2 linked regions of the Homo sapiens genome follow. The protein of the gene in region 2 interacts with the protein of the main gene of each other region in a pairwise test. Each region holds a gene or a part of one and is shown on either strand. Other genes may lie near its edges. The genes, in order: SLAMF7 and TRIB2.

Region 1 (3,349 bases), on a different chromosome or scaffold from region 2:
TAAGCCATGGTCTTTTTCCTTGTCTGCAACTTCAGTCAGAAGGCTTTTGATTTTCTTTATTATTCCGATCTAGAACCTCTGTCCTACTCTATTTGTTCCAGATTACCCAATTCGATTCCTAAAACACAATTCTCTTCCATCCCCCATGTTCTTGTATAACCCTAAGCAAAGGGAATGGGGAACTACTAGGGTACTTTTTAATTCTAGAGAGTATGAGATACCTGGGTCCAAGAAATTTTGACCTAAACATGAAGCAGGAAAAGAAATGGAACCATTAAGATGAAGTTAAGCTCTAAAGCTTCTTACCTTTTTCGGTATTTCCACAGTGGAGTAAACCGTATTTGCTGGATCTTCCTTTAGGATTGTTCTCTTTTAAAAACAAACAACAAACAAAAGAAATCATCACCCACCTCCTGAATCACATAGACAAGGCCAGAGAGACATTCAGAATCCAGAGAGGGGAAAGCAGAGATGGGAGGAGATGTGAGAGGAAAAGGAGGGTTCTGGAACAGGGAAGGGAGGTAGGAAGTTCTCTTGTTGGTGACTGCTATTATAATAAATTTTGATAACTTTTTTCAGGAAGCCATTACATTATTTTTAAACTGTACTGTGTTAAAATGAATTTCAAAAATATTATATATATATGTGTGTGTATATATATATATATATATATATATATATATATATATATAGAGAGAGAGAGAGAGAGAGAGAGAGAGAGAGAGAGAGAGAGAGAGATCTCTAGAGAAGTCTTCTGATACCATGATTCAAACATCCTGTCAAAGTCACACTCTTCTACCCACTGCCTTATGCAAAAGGAATCTGGCCTTTTGTGTGGCCGTTATGAACTGTGGAGGGGAGCAGGTGATTTCACAGACCACAGCATGAGCATTGTGAGTCAGAACCAGGTGCTCCAGAGACCACCAGCTTCTTCTGCACAGAAGAGAATCCATGAAGACTTGGAGGAGGCACAGGTGCATTGAGTTTTAAGTCTATATATCCTCACTCCCCTCTTCATTCCCATGTTGTCCAAACCCATGGAAAAACCTCACAAGGAGAGCCTCAGAGACAGGATCAGTTCTCAGGAAAGATGAGAAGGGACTCACATTAGTGTGAGGGATTGTGTCGTACTCTGTGTTCTCTCCAGAATGGGGGCATATGTTAGGAGTTTCCCGACAAATGTCCACTCTCTTCTTCTCTTCAATGTACTCTAAAAGCAAGTTGGGAGAGAATCAAAGCCACCTCTCCAACCACTCACCACTTCCACTGGCCCACCATTTCTCCTGGATGACCCACTTAGGGTGACCAACCAGCCGAGTTTCCTTGTAATGGAAGGGTTTTCAGGATAGAGGACTTTCAGTGTTAAAACTGGGAAAATCTAAACAAATCAGGATGAATTGGCCACCCCCAACATTTCACTTCCTGATCTCTCCATCAAGGTGGTCAAAGTGGGAAGTAGAGAAAGTCAAAGACACTTTCAGAGGGGCTTCCAGGAGGGAAGGGAGATTTCAAAGTCTGCAAGTCATACCCAACTGATGTTAGGTCCCTCCCCATCACCCACATGGACAGTGGGAGCCCAGAAGACCAATCAGCAGGGTTTAGGAACACAGGATGGGGTGCAACTGGAGAGAGACAGGGAAAGGCTTCCCCAGGAGCCATGTGTCTAGTGGGCAGTAAAGCGAGGTCTTGGGTTGATCCTGTGGAAAGGGTGTGGGTGGTTTGTGGGCTCTGACAGGGATAGGAAGGATTGACTAGAGGATGCTGGTCTGTGGGGACCTCAGAGTTGGAGGCCATCACCTCCCAGGTCAGGGGAGCAGAGTCAGCAGTGTGGGGCCTGTATCAACAGAAGAGCCACATCAGGATGTCCCTCTGGGAGAAGGAGAGAAGTGAGCCCTGGAAAGGGAACTGGGAGAACCGTGTCCTTGGGAAAGACCTCCAGCACTTTCTCTACTCCAGAACTAAGGAGCACAGGCTGACTGTATGCTTCTTGAGGGCAGAGACTGTGGCTTCTTCATCTCTGCATCTTCAACACCTCATGCCAAGTCTGGCACACAGCTCTATATGTGCTTGTTGAATCAGTGAAGGAGAAAAACATGAATGTGGGTGAGGACAAAAATAGTACACGCTCTACCTTCTTGTCTCTCTCTCTTCAGAAACCAAAGAAATAGCCCCAGTACAAAGAGACTGAGCAGGAGGGGCACCAACAGGAGACACAGGAGGACCATGGAGGAATCTGGGTCATCAGCAGCACCTTCAGAGAATGGGTGGAGGCACAGGGAAGGGAGAAAAGTCAGCTCAGGAAAACGACCCAGGTCTTGGAGCACCTGCCACCTTCCTCCCAGCCTGGTGACCACCCAGCGGCCTCCAGTTTCCATACAGTGTCTGTTCCCATGGGGGCTAGGAGCTGAAGAAGGTGTAGGACCTGGGCAGAGTCTCCTGTGGAGAGGGGAGAGGCAGTCACCTTCACAGAGCTTCCTGGCAAGGATGGGGCTTGAGAAGTTTCTGCTGACAGGGTTCCTGGCAACGCAGATGAAGGTCATATCACTTTCTCCCCATCTCCAGGAGATGGGGAGGATGGACCCATTATGGGACTCATTGGCTGCTTGCCCCAGGGCCTTCCAGGTATAAATCACATCCTCTTCCCCATGTTCCATGCAGCATGTCAGATTGGTCACACAGGTGCCATTCTTATTGCTCTGCAGACCCATGGTGACTTTAGGCTTTGACAGGTGCTCTGTGAGAGGAAGGAAAACCAGAGGTGGAAACTCTGCCTATAGCTCTCCATTCTCTGAATTATCCTTGGATACCTTGGACCTGAATCTCCCTGGGAGCTCCAGACTGGAGAGAAAGCAGTAATTCAGAGCAGAATCCTCATTCGTATCTGGAAAAGAGAACTACCTAGGTCTGCTTTACCATAGCTATATAATAATAATAACAATAACAACAATAGAAATAATAGAAATAATAATGCAATAAGAATATAACTGTCATTTACTAAGCATAGCCACATGGCAAGCACTGTGATAACGCATGTTAGATGTCCGCTAATATTATCTGTTCTAGAGGTTCCCTAGTCTCTGTCCTCAGGCTTCCCTTTACTCTCTATGAGAGTTCACTTTACTCTCTAGGAGAAAATTGTGTTGGAGTAGCCCTTCTGGCCCCCTTCTCTACTCTGTGCTCACTCCCCTGCCTCAGAGAATGAGTAGTTGGTTCATTGGTGAGATGGTAAGAGTCTGACATTCATCATTTACCTTTCTCTACTCATGGGTTTGAGACGTTAAAGGTTGCAGTTAAAATGTGTTTTGCCCTTTTTCTTCCTCCCCTGACTAGTTAGCCTGCAGAATACATA
Region 2 (4,283 bases):
GTGGAATTCATTCATTTCAAAGGATGACTATCCTATTGTGCAACCTTGCAGACTTCTGAGAATTCAATCCAGCTACTGAATTTTGGTTAACTGGGCACAGTTGCTCTGGGTCTCAATAACTTAGAGAAGATGCAAAATACCAAATGCTCAGTACAAGCAAAGGGCAACATTTAAAGAGTCTCCGATTTCCCCCTAAGGGCTGAACTGAACAATCGCAAAACTGACTGGAGATCTCCACTAAACCCAAATTTTGCAATGAAATACTCCAGTCCACTAGGAAATAAGGCAAGTCCGCAAAGTAGTCTGTGGTGAATGGCAAAAGCGCGATGTGTTATTTGCAGCACAACCGTGCCCAGTGACCATTTCAAAGGCAGAATGGGTCCCCCACTCTCCCCTTACCCCCTCAAAAAAAAAAAAAAACAGTCAGCAAATCTAAAATTAAGTGACAAAGAATCCTTGATCTAGGTCCAATTCTGGGTAGTAGTATGCTCTATTATAGTTATTTTCTTTTTCGCAACTATTTCGCCCCTCATCCACTTGTCTGGGGCCCGGTGGGTGCACACAAAGATACACAGACACACATATACATAAACCAGTCACTGTTCAGGGTTAAAGACAAAAAAGGAAACCGAAGTGTCCATCGCAGTGGTATTACCACTGCGGATCCCTAGGGCTCCAAACGGGAGCCTCTTAACCTTACAGGCAAAGGTGTTGTTCAGGGGGGCACGGAAGAGAGGGGATGAGCAGACAGGGAAGTCTAGAGATGGGGAGAGAGACCAAGACCAGAGAGAAAGACCCAAAGCATTCACTATTCACCAGAAAGTGCTCAGGCTTTGATTTCCACCCCAACCCTCCTTTCAAGGCTCCAGGCAGAAGAAAGGTCTTTGTAAACTCCTTCCCTGCGCTGGGCCCCTGGGCTCAGCCGAAGGGGGCACCTTTGTGTGTCTGTTTTAAAGGGCACCTTCGGAACAAAGGTTTAACACCTGCCCGCTGCTAAGAACAATGGCTGCGAAAAGAACGAAGTCATCAGTCTTAAAATTACCGGGGGATTCCCTAATCCTTGTTGGAAGGGGAGGGGGCTAGACACAGGAAGAAATCCCCCCCGGGCAGCGGGACCCGGCCTCGCGCAGAGAGCTCCTGGAGCCTTCGGTGCACGCGTGTCCGTGGCCCCCGCGCAGTCCCGCCGCCCTCTCCTCCCCGGGCTCTCCCCGAAACGCCCCCACTGCCGCCCGCCCCATTGTCTGAAACGGTCTAAAAACTTCGCAACTTACCGAACCTGAGCAAATAAATAAATAAACCCATTTAATAAGGCCACGGTAATTATCCCGCGAATCTCCCTCTCCCAGACTCGAGGGCCTGGCGCCCTCCCGCTCCCTCGGGCCCCTTCCAAAGACAAAAAGCAACCCACTGGCCCTTTACCTTGCACACCAGCTCCTCTCCGCTGTGCAGATGCACGGCACGAAAAACGTGGTCTCCCTCCAGAGGTTCCAACAATAAGTATTTCCCGATACAAGAAACGCAATGCGACAAGTTCGGAGTCTCGGGCGGGCTCGGGGAGCCGAGGTTCGGGCTGAAACTCTGGCTGGGCTCCGCGGACCTTATAGACGACAACTCTTCGAAATCCTGGGTTTTGTTCCGCGATCTCCCATATCTCGCTATTGTGATGGGGGTAGACCTGTGTATGTTCATGAGTGTGAGGATCGCACACGACAAACAAAAAAAAACCCGCTGGAGAGATGAGTCGCTGGCGAGTGCGGCTGCAGGCGCCTCGGTGCCACTGATTTTAAAAGGGAGCGAGAGGGGAGGGGACAGAAGAGGGGCTGCGTGGAGAAAGAGTTAGAAGCCCCCAAATGGGCGCCGCCGGATACCTCGTCTGCTCCGAGCCCGGCTCCCGGGGGTCCTCGGTCGGCAGGCAACTCGGGTCTTTTTGTTACCCCAAAGCAGTCGGCGATGTGCAGAATCGCCGCACTTTTAGTTACTCTGTGTGTGTGTCCCCGGCGTGGATCTGGATGAGTACCCGGGCTGCTAAGGTGCGGAGCTGCAGCGCCAGGGCTCCCGACGCGACCCCCAGGCCGGCTTCCGAATCGCAGACGGGGCGGAGGAGCCCGCGGTAGTTTGTGCAGTCTTCGGGGAGCTCACGGCGGCGACTCAGTCCCAACGCGTTAGAAGCCAAACAAAAAGAGAAAGGAAACAAGCACGGGTCTACCGGCTGGCGACGCACGGCAGCCAGAATCCGCGCTGCACCCCCTTTTTTTGGTGGAAAGGGTGGGGGGCGTGTAAGGGGGGGGTGCGGGAGAGGGCAGTTACCTACGTTTTAACTGTAGATGGCGTCTGAGGCTTTTCCAAGATCGCGAGCTCTCCAAAAATTAAACAAACAAACAAAAAAAAGAAAAATTGCAAGGGAGCATTTAACTTGGTGCGGTCAGCGCTGCCAACAAAAGATTGCAAAAGCTGGGCACAGAGTTGCGGCGCGGGCTGGGCGCAGGTACCGCGACAAAGCCCTGGGCTCGGCCCGCCGCGCGGAGGTCAGCACAGGCTCATGCTGTCGCCGCTCGCTCGCGCCCCAGGTCTTCCTCCGAATGCAGCCAGACGTGCAGGAGAGAACGAGGACAGATCGGCGGTCTCCGATTTCGCCGGCACGAGCTTGCGGGGGTCCTGCGGGCGCTGCAAGGGGAGCTGCGTCCCTGGCCCTTCCAACGCGCGGCGTTCCTTTGCCCCTTTCCCGCTGGAGAACTGGATCTCGTCCTGGAATAATTTGCAATCACCCCGTCTCCCCCTACCCCGAGACCAAATTGCCCGGTGGGGTTTGTTTTGGAGAAAATTGACGGCTTGTCTCCTCCTTCTTTGATTTCTTGCTTGCCCCCCCCAGAGAAAAGAGGGGACCGTGTATTTAAAAATTAAAGGGGACGGCCGACGGTGCCCGAGGCCAATCCCCGCGCTCAGCACGCCCGCATCCCCCGGCGAGGCGGTATTAATAGTTACTTACGTGGCCGGGGATCTCGGAGCGAGCGGGGCCGTGAGTGCGCGTGTGCGCGCGCGCGCCTCGCTCGCGCTCGGTCTCCCCATTCAATGTCACCGACACATTTCCACGGAGCCTCCGCCCCCCCCCCGCCGCCCCCGCGACTGGCTCAGCCCAGAGCCGGCCCCGCCCCGCCCCCGCCCGGGCCCCCCTCATTGCGCCGGGCGCCCATCAATCAGCCCCGCCGCTGCCAGTCCTCGGGCGGCTCCCCGCGCCGCTGCCATTGCAGCTCCGTGCCGGGGGCGCCAGCACCGGCCTCGCAGCTCCCTCGCCCGGCCGGGGAGGTAAACAAAGTGAAATATCCTTCCGCGGCCCGGGGCCCCGGGCGCAGCACCCTGGGTGTCGGCTGCGAGCCGGCTGCGAGCCCAGCTGCGGGCGGCTGGGCCGGGGTTACCAGCAGCGACTCCCGAGCCGTTCCCCACACGCTGCTCCCGCAGCGCCCGCTCCAGCTCTTCGTAGCTCGTTCATGTTCCTGGCGCTTTTCCCCAGAAAGCCAGGCACGCTCTGAGCATTGGGCCCCCAGGCTCAGATGTGGCCCTGAATGAGGAGCTCTGTTTTGGAAGAATGCGCTTTCATCGGTATTGCTGCCTGGAGTTTCGAGAATTCGTTTCATGGTATCTCTCCGACATCCTCCTCTCCATTTAAAAGGAAATCCATTGCTTCCTTTTAGTTGGTGTCACCGCTTGCCCCCGATCCCCACATCCTGGGCTTGTATTTCTAGTGTTTTCAGCAGAAGAGGAACTGAAGGCATCTTTTGATTCAGGTCAAATTTAATCACTAATTCTTCCCTTCCCAGTGCATTGCCTGGAGGGCCTTGGAGGCCAAGCTAGACAAAACTTTGCACCCACACCTCCAGGGAGCGCTGTTGGGTCCTATCCAGGGTGCTGGGCGTCCTGAGTCCTCTTCTGTTAGCCAGGTGAAGGCTGCAGTTTCACGCCCCACTCCACCCCCCATTTCGCCACCCCCCCCGAATTATTCGTAACTTCCTTGGGAGATTCCAGTCCGCGGGCTTGGACAGGAACACCGGAAGCAAGGGGCTTGAACTCAGGCAGAGGCTTCAAACGCCAGCCTTGATCTAAGATATCCTGGTGAATGAGAAGCGATCTAGTAGAGGACAAACTTAAAAAAAAAAATCCCAAGGAACTGAGAAAGGGGAGTTGGGACGACTCCTGGAGCCCTCTGAGCTTTTGCATGCGTGTAGTATATTTTCCACTGGAGGAGGGGACTAAATTATTGTCCACTGTAGGACACTTTCAGTAAAAGA

The links.
Region 1: the proteins of TRIB2 (region 2) and SLAMF7 interact in a two-hybrid assay, tested with the Homo sapiens proteins (one large-scale study listed by BioGRID and IntAct).

The regions. Positions count from the first base shown.
Region 1 is NC_000001.11:160,749,206-160,752,554, reverse strand, and holds part of SLAMF7 (SLAM family member 7 isoform a precursor), read right to left. Parts: intron 2,735-3,349; coding exon 2,462-2,734; coding exon of another isoform or gene 2,423-2,461; intron 2,252-2,422; coding exon 2,132-2,251; intron 1,211-2,131; coding exon 1,107-1,210; intron 370-1,106; coding exon 307-369; intron 1-306. UniProt on the Homo sapiens protein: Self-ligand receptor of the signaling lymphocytic activation molecule (SLAM) family.
Region 2 is NC_000002.12:12,715,714-12,719,996, reverse strand, and holds the start of TRIB2 (tribbles homolog 2), read right to left. Parts: upstream 3,062-4,283; 5' UTR 1,690-3,061; coding exon 1,420-1,689; intron 1-1,419.